Linked DNA regions of Homo sapiens. The protein of the gene in region 1 purifies or fractionates together with the protein of each later gene. This does not show direct contact. Each region holds a gene or a part of one and is shown on either strand. Other genes may lie near its edges.

Region 1 (7,026 bases):
TTGCAACACCAAGGAAATAGGTGTGCTATGTGAGCTTACTCTTAAATAATGGCTTTTAGTGAGTGTAGATAGTTCATGTGTAATGTACATCACATTATACCACCTAGGGTTTATTGTAAACTATATTGCTGCTAGATACATGTGAAAATATTTTCTTTCAATTTAGGTGTTTCCCATGATGAATTGCTTGACTTAGCAAAGTTTCATTTCGGTGACTCTTTATGCACACACAAAGGAGAAATACCAGCTCTGCCTCCCTGCAAATTCACAGGAAGTGAGGTAGGGCAAGCCTTCCAGCTAGTATTTAGCCTTTTGGATTCCTTGTGTTGTATTTACACATAAGTAAACAAAATGTGCATATTTCCAGTAGGAAAAGAATGGAATAATAGGAAAAGGGAAGAGGATGTACTCATTTGCTTACATTCCTTCCTCTTCCGTATTCTTTAACCACCTATTTTTCTTCCTAAGGAAGCAAGGTTTTTTTTGTTTTGTTTTTAAATTTCTCCATTCTAGTCTGAAAGGAAGCAAAGTTTTTAAGAGCAGTTTATAATTTGGTCTTTTTGTGCTTTTTCTTTGGCACTATGCCAATTTACATATTGTAATATCTGGAAGTAATCTTTTAAACCCCGTATTTTGACTTTCACTTCAGGTTTACTCTTGGCTCAGTTTTGCCCACAGTATGTTTTGGGAGGGGGTAGTAACTGTTAGAGCCAGAACTTGCAGGGGATCTACTAGTTATCAACTAGCTTTAAGCCCCACTAGCTGCTTAGTTTGCCATGTTGAGGATGATGCTCAAAGTAGTATCTGGAAAATGCCCTGATATTGGCAGCTGCCTAGAACTGTAGCATTGGCAGTACAAAAATAAACCTGTAACGTCAATATGACATTTCAATAGAAAAGTTCAGATTGAGGCCGGGTGCGGTGGCTTACGCCTGTAATCCCAGCACTTGGAGAGGCTGAGGCGAGTGTGTCACTTGAGGTTAGGAGTTTGAGACCAGCCTCACCAACATGGTGAAACTCCGTCTCTACTAAAAATACAAAAATTAGCTGGGCGTGGTGGTGCATGCCTGTAGTCCCAGCTACTCGGGAGGCTGAGGCAAAATTGCTTGAACATGGGAGGCCGAGGTTGCGGTGAGCCGAGATGGTGCCACTGCACTCCAGGCTGGGCGACAGAGTGAGACTCTGTCTCAAAAAAAAAGAAAGAAAAAGACAAATTCAGATTGACAAACACAAAGGATTGATTTCTACCAGTGAAATGATGCAACCCTTTTGACCAGGTAAACCATGTGGTGCCTGTCTGTAGTAAAATGCTTTGGGAAAAGTAATTTTTCCCTAATTTAGTCTTAATTCTTCTAGATTAAACTCAACAATGTAATGAGGCCTGATAGTTAAAAAATCAAAATAGAGTCCTGGTGTGCATTTTAACTTTGCAGTTAATGGGACTGGTGATTTTTTCCTTGTTAATAAGCATGTTATATAATGTTAATCTTAACTAGAGGTCCTCCTGCTTTATCTTAACTAGATTCGTGTGAGGGATGACAAGATGCCTTTGGCGCACCTTGCAATAGCTGTTGAAGCTGTTGGTTGGGCACATCCAGATACAATCTGTCTCATGGTTGCAAACACGCTGATTGGCAACTGGGATCGCTCTTTTGGGGGAGGAATGGTAAGTGATTTTAAAAGAAATTTTCCATAACAGATGGAAGATTATCATGTTTTCTTAAATATAAGTTCTTTGTAAGAATCCTTTTTTAAAGTGGCAGAATAGAGTCTTGTACTGTGAATTCTGACTTAAAAATATAAACTGATCCTGGATTGCATGTGGGCCAGAAAAAGTTTCTTTTTTTCTTTGCCACAAAGTTTATTAGTGGCAAAATTTGAATAAGGACAGAATTAGCTAGAAGTACTATGTCAATGTTAATATCCTAATTTTAATAGTCAGTAGGCCCTCTATATCTGTGGGTTCCATATCCGTGGATTCAACCAACCATAGGTGGAAAATTTTGGGGAACAAATGGATGGTTGCATCTGTACTAAACATGTATGGACTTTTTTTTTGGTCACTTCCTAAACAATATAGTATAACAACTATTTACATAGCATTTACATGGATTGGGTATTTATCTAGAGATGATTTAAAGTATACAGGAGAATGTGCTTATATGCAAATATTACATATACCATATTACATGAGGGCTCTAGCATCTGTGGATTTTGGTATCCACAGGGATCTGGGAACCAATTCTCCACAGATACTGAGGAACTATACCAAGGTGATGTAAGAACATTAATTTCCTTGTTTTTCACAAGTACATACTAAAGTATTTGGGGCAAGAAGCATCACATCTAAAACTCAGTTGAAAAAACTTGTATAAAGAGAATAAAGCAAACATGGTAAAATAACAGGGAATCTAGATAAATGAAATTCTCTGTACTGTTTTTGCAACTTTTTTGTAAGTTGGAATTATTTCAAAACACATTGTATAGATTTGTCTTTACTCATAGATTTCTCCAAAATACATTTCATCTAAATAATCTTAAGCTTCATATGCAATATAACTTTGAATCTTTAAGCGTATGTAGCCAAGAGTCCTAGAAATTGGGTTGATAATAGCCATCTAGTTTTAGAAGTAGGTATAGCTACTACATTAATTATAAGGACTCATTGCTTTTATAACATGAATTTCTCCAGGGGGTGCACTGGGTAAGTGAGATAATAAACACAATTCTTAGTCATACTGAATTTTAACTCTACTACTGAGATGTTGAATAAAACTAGGAAACAGCCTCTAAGGATATTCACTATTTTCCACACACTCCATTTTTCTTTCTGTATTTTGGACATGTATAATTAAAATTCTCTTGGAATTTTTTTTTCCTTGCAGAATTTATCTAGCAAGCTGGCCCAGCTCACTTGTCATGGCAATCTTTGCCATAGCTTTCAGTCTTTCAACACTTCCTACACAGATACAGGATTATGGGGACTGTATATGGTTTGTGAATCATCCACTGTTGCAGACATGCTACATGTTGTTCAAAAAGAATGGTGAGAAAAATAGCTTTAAGTAATTTAAATTTTGCCTTTAATTCGTTTTAAACTAGTTTTTTATTTATACTTTATGGTGATTTATGGTAATTTTACCTTTTAATTAAGAGACCTAGATAAACAGTAGTTGCCATGTTTTCAAAGGTTGCAGTTGGTTTTTCCTAAGTCTCAAGATGTGAAGCTGATTTATACTATAGAATTTTTTTTTTTTTTTTTTTTTGAGATGAGGTCTTGCTCTGTTGCCCAGGCTGGAGTGTAGTTGTGCCATCTCGGCTCACTGCAGCCTCCGCCTCCCAGGTTCAAGCCATTCTCCCACCTCAGCCTCCCGAATAGCTGGGATTACAGGCGCACCACCATGCCCACGATGCCTGGCTAATTTTTTGTATTTTTTAGTAGAGATGGGGTTTCACCATGTTGACCAGGCTAGTCCTGAACTCCTGACCTCAGGAGATCCACCCTTCTCAGCCTCCCAAAGTGCTGGGATTACAGGCGTGAGCCACCACACCTGGCTGAAAGTTTTAATCTTTCAGAAGCAGGTTAATTCAGAAAGATGATCCTAAAAGTTTAAAAGCCAACTAGAAGTTGTTTGGAAAATATCTCTGAAAGTAATCTGGTTGAAGGGAAAGTAAATCTGAAGTTGCCACTGCTAAAAGAAAACAAAGTATATTGAGTCGATAGATGGGCAGAAAGGCTCGCAGCTTCTTGGAAAACATTTAGCTCTGGTTCCTTTCCTCCACTATTCTTAATTGGTTTACATCTTTCTAAATCTAGTCAACTAGGATGTAATTATTGTTAAAAATTAGATTTAAGTTAGACTCTACTCATTGTTTTCAGAAACCAATGAATGACCCACTGACTTAACCCATAGCATATCAGACTCCAACAGATGAGGACTCATGAAGTCTCAAGATGCTTATAGCATTTCTGAAAATGTGATCAGCCCATTTGTATAAAGCCTTTGTCTGCTAATGTGTAATTAGGCATGTTTATGTATCATTTTTGAGAAATTAATACTGGGGAAAATAATCATTTTAGCTTTTGCTTAGCATTGGAATTAAATTGTAATCACCTGTATGTTTTGTGTAGAAGATGGCATCATCATTCTTAGGTCATTAACTCATGAAATACAACATTTTCCAACTACTACTGTTTTTCCACGTTTTTTAGGATGCGACTCTGTACAAGTGTCACAGAAAGTGAGGTTGCACGAGCCAGAAATCTTCTGAAAACAAACATGTTGTTGCAGCTTGATGGTAAAAATAAAGATATAGGTTCTGTTTTCATATGGTTGATCTGTATTCCAATAGTTAATTTTTCCTTCTCTTTAAACAGGTTCAACTCCAATTTGTGAAGATATTGGTAGGCAAATGTTATGCTATAATAGAAGGATTCCCATCCCTGAGCTTGAAGCAAGAATTGATGTAAGTAGTCCTGAGTTACTATTGGGTCATGTGTAAAAAGATCCTTGTTACAAAAGCTGAGAATATGTATCTTTCATCTTGCTTTAGTTTTAAAAAGTTCCAGGTATAGACTTTGTTTTTACTACAAACAGCTGAATGACAGTGTCTTCCATATTTCAGGCTGTGAATGCTGAGACAATTCGAGAAGTATGTACCAAATACATTTATAATAGGAGTCCAGCTATTGCTGCTGTTGGTAAGCCTGGCTTCTTTTCTTCTATGCAAAAAGTTGGCCAAGTACTTTTAATTAACTCTTCTTTTTAATCCTTAGGTCCCATTAAGCAACTACCAGATTTTAAACAGATACGCAGTAACATGTGTTGGCTTCGTGATTAAAATGCTCCTAATCAAGATTGTTTGAACACATGTATTTATAAAACAGAGCTAGAGAAAAATAAAAATGAACATGTATATACATTTGGAAATTTGAATTAAATACTGTATCATACTTTCAAAGGATAAAAAGACTACCCCTCTGAAGGTTGTTTTGTATTAATGGTCAGTCTTTGTTCTCTGAGAAATTATGTTGGAAGCAGCATACTTTCAAATTATTACCATGAGTATAATTTTAAGAATGAAAATGTTTACAGTATTTTCAGTTTTATTATAAAAATGCACACACAACAAAGATTGTCATTTCTTGGCTCTACTTGCATTCAGCACTTGTTCTTGAGCAGCTTTCTTTGCTTTTACCATCTCGACAAGTTCCTAGGAAGGGAGAAAGGTGTGATTTAAGAAGTTGCGATTTAAAAACAGACATTTTAATCTAGTGTTTGGTGTAAAGAATTCAAGCAACTAAGATAGATAGTACTAAATATACTGATTTCATTATCTGCCAGGGCCTAGAAAGTTTCTAAGGTTGCTCATTTCTTCCTCATAATATTGACCCCATAACTACTGGTTTTGAAATAAGCACTATATTATTAACCACTTAATAGACATAAAATATGAGCTATATCACCCAAGCTACAATTTAAAATACAACAATCTATAAACGCTTAAGTCTGCAACCTTGTATCGTTTCATGCAGTCCTTCTTTGTCCTGCCAGGCACCGCTTCTGCTATTTTTTCCCATCTTTCAGGTGTATTTACTGGGTATGTTTTCAAAGCTTGTTCCAAAAGCTTCTGTTCTTCTGTTGTCCAAGGGGTGAAGTCTGTATATGGACCTGATTAAGAAAAATTTTTATTTGAAAACTGTCTTTGAACATGTTCTCAGACAAGTCTTGTGGTCCACAAGTATTCGCTAAGTGCCCATTTCAATCTGGGATGTGTCATTTTGAAAATAAACTTGTAGAGATGAGAGATACATATAGCCCTCTGAGTGTTAATAAGAGAAAAAATTTCAGATAGCTCACATCCCAGAAAATAAAATCTCAAAGGCTTTTAAAACACAATAGTAAAGATCTACCTTGTACTGTTTATCTCTTAAAAATCAATGTAATACACTCACCAGACTGGTAAAAAGCCATATTTAAATTTATAGTACTGTTGGACTCTTGGACTCAAAAACACAACCACAATTCATTAAGAGTTCTGATAAATCTACTTCCTTACAGAATAGGTAAAAGAGCTTCCTCACAGTTAAACTTTTGCTGGATAGAAACCCTGGAAATCATTCTTGTTTTACACTGAAGGAAACAAACCTAGCAAAATTAAGCCAAGTGCCCAAGGTACCAGTGCTGGAGAGGCAAGCTGAGATTAGATTGTGTTGTAGTGTGGTGTTCTCTTCGTCACATCTGCTAAAATCTTGGGAGCCGATGCTGAACACTTCCAATAACTGCTATTGTGGTTCTTCAACTAAACCTTGTATATTTCAGAAAACATCTAAGATGTGTGTCAGAAACAAATATGTTTCTTAAGGATGTTAAGTATTACACAGTCCACTTGTGTAGGTAAAAGTAGAATGTTAAGTGGTAGAAAGCTGATTTGGTTAAGTTAATGGACTTCTGGCAATTTAGTTATTTCAGACTATGCAGTGACAACACAGACTAATACTACCAGTAGCCTGACTACTACTAGAAACTGCGGCCTGTGAGATCTGTTAAAAGTTAAGCCTAGAAACCAAAGTTCCTTCCCAATTAAAGAAGGAAAAACAAAACAAAACAAAACAAAACCACCACCTATTCAAAACAAAGCAGAGAATTTGTATAATATTTGATGGTACCTAAGGTGCCTAAGAAGCTTTTTTGAAGGTAGCTTTTAAGTTCTAGGAAGTCTTTTGTTGAATTTCCTTGTATTGGTTTAAAGCCCTAAATACCATAGATTTTATTTCCTCTCTTGGAAAAAAGATGGAAGTGACATGGCAGTATTTCCTGCTGTTCTCCAGTTACTTCACAATACCAAAATAAATTAAACGTACTGTTGCAAAACTCCTATGAGAAATCACTATTCAAAAAATGGTGCCAGCTTGCTGTTTAATGGTACAACTGAAGAGGAAGGAGCCTTCCCATTTCCATAAAAGAGGCAAAGGAGTCATACCCACATAGCACTACTGCCAGTCACTCTTGCCTTCACAGGGTC
Region 2 (7,026 bases), on another chromosome or scaffold:
ACTGTTTGAATGACTGAAACTTTCAAAGAGAGTGATTTGTCAATCAACAAATCTGTATAAATTACAGTAAGGAATGCAACGATGAGCCTATTTTAAATAAAAAATTTCCTGAAAATCAGATTAATTGTATTTATCAAGAGAATTTAGAAATACATGATAATGATGGTTATACTACCTTTTTCTTTTTTTAATAGACAGGGTCTTACTCTGTTGCCCAGGCTGGAGAACTATCAGAGCAAGCTGCTGCATGATCCTTTGACACCATTTGAACTTAGGCACAATTACAGCTCAGTGCAGCCTCAACCTCCTAAGCTCAAACGATCTCCCACCTCAGTTTCCCAAGTTGCTAGGACTACAAGCATGTGCCACCATGCCCGGCTAATTTTTTATTTTTTTGTAGAGATGGGGTCTTACTATGTTGCCCAGACTGGTCTCAACCTCCTGGTCTCAAGTGATCCTCCTGTCTCAACCTCTCAAAGTGCTGGTATTATAGGTATGAGTCACTGTGCCCAGTCCATAATACATTATTAAATGACAATTTTTTCTGAAATGAAATTTTTTTAAGATAGACACTAATATTTTTAATCAATTTCAGAATAAATAACTTGATTGACTTCCATACCTTTAACATCTGGATCATCAATGTGGGGCTCTAGATTTTCTATCATTTCTTCCAGTTCCTTTCTGGTGGCCATGGTGATGTTTGGAGAACTGGGCACAGGGCCCTCAGATTCTTCCTCTGGTCCCTCTGGGCTGGGTTTTCCCCCAGAGTTCTGTTCAAGCTCTATGTCTAGATCTATTTCAGGAAGAGGAGTCCTCCAGAAATGGAAGGAGTTATACAATTCCTGATCTAAGAGAGCTGAATCTTGTGAAGTGGTGCCAACCTCTGGTCGTAACATAGATTTGTAGTTACCAGGTTTTTTATCATTCTCATTACTAGCTGCTTCCTGGTGAGATTCTGAGGACAAAGTACAAAGTAAAGAGCTGTCCAGTGGAACACTAATTTCACCTAGAGGCTTCCCGGATGCCTCAGCAGCATGGTCTTCCATCGTGTTTTCCAGTATGACACTGGAATTACTAACACTGAGATCTGAAGGAGTATCCTCTGGCCTGACTTGTACATCCTCTGGGGCTTCTTGATCTCTGGTCCTTTTATTGTTTTATTTGGTGGGAAAAAAACAATATGAAAGGATAATTACTTTAAAAAAACTGATGAAAGATATTACATATAGCATTTAGACAAGTTAAACATTAAAAATTACGGATTATCTGTACAAACTGAGTTTATGTATATTATTTATAATGCTTCTTTCTCCATCAGCTGTTCTGTGTTCAAAGATGTAAATACCTGTTAAGTATAAGTCTAGATAGTCAAGCAATATATATTAGTTAGAGAAGGTAACATTTAAGAATCCTGGGATTCTATAACACCATGCTAATTTCAATAATAAATAACTAAAGAAAAGTAGTGGAAACAGAAATTCCTACAATCATTTTAAGATACATAACAACATTTAAATTATTTTATTTTTAGGGTTATTTGTATTACCTCTCTACTCCAACGACATATTGCAAAGCTGAGACCTAAAGCCTATTTGCTTACATTACACAAGGAAAATAAAATAAAAACAATTTTAAGATAGTAGTAGGAAAGATACTTATTTGCTATCTCACAAAATATATTAAAATCTGCTTGAGTGTAAATATTACTTCTGTTTCTTCTAAAATATTCATCTCTACTCCCCAAGGTTTTCCTAAAATGAGGACATAATTTAATTGATAAGGACAGATGGTACAAATTCATTAAAGTCCACTGATTACTGCCATCTATTATCTGAAGTACGACTGTAAGTGTTATTATTTGATTCAATTAAATTTAACAGGCATTTATTGAGCACCTACTAAGAGCCAGGAAATGAAATCAGTATTGAGGATTCAAATGTGAATGAGATGCAGCTCTTGATCTTGAGATTACAATTAGAGGCAAACAGAAAAAATGAAGATATATCAGCAAATTGCTGCTAGACAGGGTGGTAAGCACAGATGCAAGCACACTGAACACAGGAGGAGATGGGAGTGAAGATTAAAAGGCCTTCAAGGAAATGACATGAGTTGTGCTTAGAAGAACCAATACATGTTTATGGGGCTAAGGGGAAGAAAAAAGCATCTAAAGGAGAAACAGGACATGCAAAGGCCGGAGTGGCAGAAAAGGTGTGACGCATTCAGGAATCAGCAATGAGGAAATGATGGATGACAAGGATGAAAGATATCACATGAACCACTGTATTCCAGACCAGCAGACCTCCGGAGTTCATCCTGGACTACAGGAAATCATGTAGTAAGGAAATTGTTAATAGATCTGTTGTTTTAGAAAGACCATTCTGGAGGAAGTGTAGAAAATGAGTTGAGAGGTAAGATAGGAGGCAGGAATTACAGACATGCAGGTAAGAAGTGATGATGTTCTGATGGAGGCAGTGTCTCCAGGACTACAGAAGAACACATTCAAACAGCAGCAAAAATCAACAGGACTTTTCCACTTATTGCATGCTGCAGGTAACAAAAACAGTTTCACAAGAAAGCTAACAGGTTCAGGTTGAAAGAGGTTGAGTTAGCTATCCACGTTGGGTTCTAGGTGGTGATTATCTATGAGAAAGAGGTAAAGACTGAGACAGAGGTGGAGGTCATCAACTCAGAAAGATGTGTGGGGCTGACATATGCGGAGGCAACAAGTATTAATAAAGAATAACACAACTGCATAGAATAACAAAGAGTGAAGGCATTTTTCCTGTATAAAAGAATGATGAGCATATTTTTAGGCTGAGGAAAATAGGTTAGAAGAGATGAAAGAACTGGAGACACAGAGATTGATGAAATAACTGATAAAGCAATGTCTTTCTGAGAAGAGGAAAGAATATGGGCTTCAAAAACACAGCAAAACAGATTAAACAGTGAAGAGACTTGCTTCCCAAGAAACATGAAAGGGAAATAAGGATGGCTGAATATGTAGGTAAATTTGTAAGATGAATACAGGAAAAAGCATCTGTGTGCCTTTAAATACACACAATAAAAGATGTTTAACAGGAGACTTAAAAGGACTGTGCAAAAGGAGGGTGATGTTAATGCCTATGTGAGCTCCCACTTAAACAGTCACCATCTACATTCTCATGAAATTACGAAGTTCCCTCTCATCATAATGCTGTTTTCAAAACCATTATTTTCACAAACAGGTGATTATTTTTTAAAATACTGATGAACAAAAACATACGTAAGTCATCTGAAAACATAACACATTGTGACTGCATTTTAAATTCTGGTATTTTTCTTCTTATAACTACAAAATATACAGTATGCATATATAATACAATTGTTTACAAGTGTGAAGAAATCAGACTTTAACGTTCTTACTCTCGCACTGGCACTACGTTAATATAAAATTCTGAACCTTTTAAGGACTTCTAGGATTCCTCACTTATTCCTTATTCATAAAAATGAGGAGTTGGCCTAGATAACCTGTAAGATGTTTTCCCACTCCAAAGGAGCTCCTGAAGCTAGTGCTGTTATGCAAAATAAATGTGTCTTCTACATGTTTATGAATTATGTATTTCCCATTTTGTCCATATTAAAAAATATGTATTTTTCCCTTTTGTTATAAAGAACATTAGTGGGCCAATTGGTAAAATTCAATAAAGGCTAGATTAGCTAACAGTATTGTATCAATGTTAATTTCCTAATTTTGGTAACTGGACTACAGTTATATATTAACATCTGTGTTTTAAAGAAATACATAGTATTTTAAAAAGGTAAAAAGAATATCATGTCTAAAACTTATTCTCAAAGAGTTCAGAAAAAAAGAATAAAGCAAATATGGTAAAACAGTATTTGGAAAATCTACATGGATATATGAAGTTCTTTGTGATATCCTTGCAAAATTTCTGAAATCATTCAAACTAAAATTTTAAAATTATAATAAGATATTGTTCAGAAAGGGGGAAGAGAAGAGCAAATGGGTAAAACTTGTAAGACCTCGTATGTACTATCTAATAAATACAATGAACTTCTGTTTTGTTTATTGTTTTTTTAAGAGACAGGGTCTCGCTCTGTAGCCCAGGCTGGTGTAAAGTGGTATGATCATAGCTCACTGCAGCCTCAAACTCCTGGGCTGAAGCGATCCTCCTGCCTCAGCCTCCTAAAGTGATGGAATTACAGGGCCTTGAAGTTCCTTGATCACTAGCTCACCTTGGTGTTAAAATTAAATTTTAATATTCTCAGCTGCAAAAATGAACGGAGAATGACTGGTCAAATAACTGTTTGTCTGATAAATGTAAACTTGTTAGTTTGTCCAAACTTAAAACTCTTAGAATGATTTTTTTAAAAGGAAACTAGAAGACAAAGTTTCCCTAGTACAGTATTAAATTGTGGACAGAACTACAGCATGCATGGCTTCAAAAATGTCGAAAGTATAAATTCTCTAAATTCTAATTTTTCCTGGTAAAGTATAATAGTCAATACAAAATCAAGCTGTTCAATGCTAAAATTCTGATATTCCTAATTGTCAGACTTTGAAATGCTATTGTACAAGACAAATTTTTTTTTGAAAATTGAGGCCCTTTGTGACTCTGTATAATGGGAATTATCCTGTCTCCTAAGAGACGTAGGTATCAAGAGCACCAGAGGACAGTCCAGAAACTACCTACTTAAGGAGGAATCTTAAGTGTCTTTTTGTGCCTACATAAGTTTATAATTAATATCTTCAGAGTTCCTTAGTAGAGACTATGGGCCTAGAAAATTAATTACAGGTATTTCAAGGAGAAAATGACTTGTAGAACATCTGGCTAAAGAGGTATTGTATCCTGAGATAAAAGCAAACACGCTCCAGGATACCTTCCAAGTACTGTGAATTAACTCAATGAAGTTTTAGCATTCATGAAATATTTCCAAATTTGTGCTAATAATTTTTTTTCATATAGTTAGCATTAAGCTAAACTGGAAAAATCCAGCAAAAGTGGTTTAGTTACTTCAGATTTTTGAGGTCAAATCCATATTTCCCTAGAATAATTCATTCAGGATTAATATGTGCACCAACGGGCCAGGCCCAGCGGAGACAAAGGGAGGAGCTGGACGCCACACTGCATGGCCGGGAGGCTACTGGATGATAGATGCCAATATGTAGCCAAAAGGATAGGATTAAAATAGTGCTCTCATTACAGCGCTACTGATGATGAAGACAAAAGCTCTGTACTTCCTGGACAACTCAGTGCATCTAAGACAGCACTTTGTTAAACGAGGGTATGGATGGAACAAGAAGCTTCCCAGAGAGCAGCAAGTACAAAAACAGGGAGAATTAAGAGAACATGGTGCATTCAGAGAACAATGTGATAACGAATGCTTATTTTACATACTTTTAAAATGCAGATTTGAGTATTTCAACTCTGCTTCTGAGAAGTAGGCTTTATCAGCACTTTCAAAGAAGCATTAACAGCCTGATCCAGGGTGAGTGAAAGATCTGATGTGTAAGTCAGATGTTTGGAATCAATAAATGCTTCAAAGAGTAATAAAGTGATAGTAAATGTTTCTAGGGTCAGATGAAACACTATACAATAAACAGTGGTGGAAATATGTTGCCAAAAACTTGCTTACTTTGTAAGACATTTGTTTGAAAAACCTGAATCTAAGAAACTGAGAGAACTTTGAGGACAGGAACGAAGTTCTATCTTTCCATTTACAGTTTCTGGTTCATAGGAGGTGCTCAGTTAACTTTTGCATAATCAATCAATCAATCTTAATACCACAACAGTTTAAGACAGCTTAAAACAAATGCCACTGTGCTATTTAAGGGAGGGCAAACAAACTAATGGTTCTGAGATTTAATAATATATAGGACTACTTCTTTATAGTTTGTCAAACTATGCAAAAGCTTTTACAATATTTAACATAACTCCTTCCTTAGCCAGGAATGCTCTCTTTCCCCTACCATATCATTAACATAATTTAATAAGCTCTAATATTACTGAAGATCAGCAATACAAGTAGTATTGCCTGGACATTAAGACATACCTCATTACAATGGAAGAAGAATCAAGGAATTGAACTACCTTTAAATAGCTATTGCAGTAATGCTACACACCGGTAGGCGGCAAACATGGCCTTGATAGGCACACTGTTGAGGTCAGTGAAGTTTTACTGGAACACAGCCAAGCTTGTCCATTTATGTAATGTCTACGGCTGCTTATACACTGCAAAGGCCGAGTGAGTAGTTGTGAAACAGAAGAAAGTTTACCAGCTCGTCCTATACAGTTCTCTGCAAATTTATAGTTTCTTACTAGACCCATTTCAGATTTTAAAACAGAAGTTATGTAACAGTCTTCAGTATAAACAGGTAATTTTTTAAGTATGCTGATTTCAAAAATGAAAAATAGATAACATTCCCCACCCACCATCATCACTTTTGTCAAAGTCCTGGCAGCACCTGTTTTCAAAAAAACTGACAGACTTTGCTTGCTAGGAAGACAGGTTTGAGTGATTTTCTTCCTTTACAAAAAACAGTACCTCAGGTTTGTTTGGCTATTCAGCAGGACAGTAGGAGAACGGGCAAAAAGGTAAAACAAGGCAGCAGAGAAGAAAGAAGAACTGCCAAATCAAAACACCAAGAAAGCAAATAGCACAGTATCAAGACCTACAGAAGAAAATGTCCATTAGCATCATGACAAGGGAGGGAAAAGACACTATGGTAACTCAAGCATTATAGCAGGGACTGTTTCAAATATTTGTACTAAAATTACTTCAAGTGCATAACTGTAAAAGTTTGTGTACATTTCCCGCATACTAGTAAGTTAGGCTTGAATTAGTTTTTCCCCTAAATATATATTATAATAAATTTTTAAAATTTAAATTTAATAGAAAATTTTCAATGCAAAAACATTTAAAAATAAAAATCACAGCCGACTCTTTAAGCTTTATTTAAAACTTTGGTTTCCTTATGAGACTGATATACTTAAAACTGATATACTGGCTAATATACTGGCTTTC

What was found. Proteins that work in one complex are often made in the same cells at the same time.
Region 2: the proteins of PMPCB (region 1) and PPP4R1 purify together in Homo sapiens (affinity purification with mass spectrometry; 3 studies listed by BioGRID and IntAct, with this or other methods). This does not show direct contact.

Annotation. Positions count from the first base shown.
Region 1 is NC_000007.14:103,307,430-103,314,455, forward strand, and holds part of PMPCB (mitochondrial-processing peptidase subunit beta isoform 1 precursor), read left to right. Parts: intron 1-166; coding exon 167-279; intron 280-1,522; coding exon 1,523-1,666; intron 1,667-2,885; coding exon 2,886-3,046; intron 3,047-4,213; coding exon 4,214-4,299; intron 4,300-4,378; coding exon 4,379-4,467; intron 4,468-4,626; coding exon 4,627-4,702; coding exon of another isoform or gene 4,703-4,770; exon of another isoform or gene 4,771-4,777; coding exon 4,778-4,842; 3' UTR 4,843-5,139; coding exon of another isoform or gene 5,140-5,214; 3' UTR 5,215-5,517; coding exon of another isoform or gene 5,518-5,672; 3' UTR 5,673-7,026. Other genes in the region: DNAJC2 (dnaJ homolog subfamily C member 2), read right to left, coding at 5,140-5,214, 5,518-5,672. UniProt on the Homo sapiens protein: Catalytic subunit of the essential mitochondrial processing protease (MPP), which cleaves the mitochondrial sequence off newly imported precursors proteins. Preferentially, cleaves after an arginine at position P2.
Region 2 is NC_000018.10:9,569,535-9,576,560, forward strand, and holds part of PPP4R1 (serine/threonine-protein phosphatase 4 regulatory subunit 1), read right to left. Parts: intron 1,150-7,026; coding exon 623-1,149; intron 1-622. UniProt on the Homo sapiens protein: Regulatory subunit of serine/threonine-protein phosphatase 4. May play a role in regulation of cell division in renal glomeruli. The PPP4C-PPP4R1 PP4 complex may play a role in dephosphorylation and regulation of HDAC3.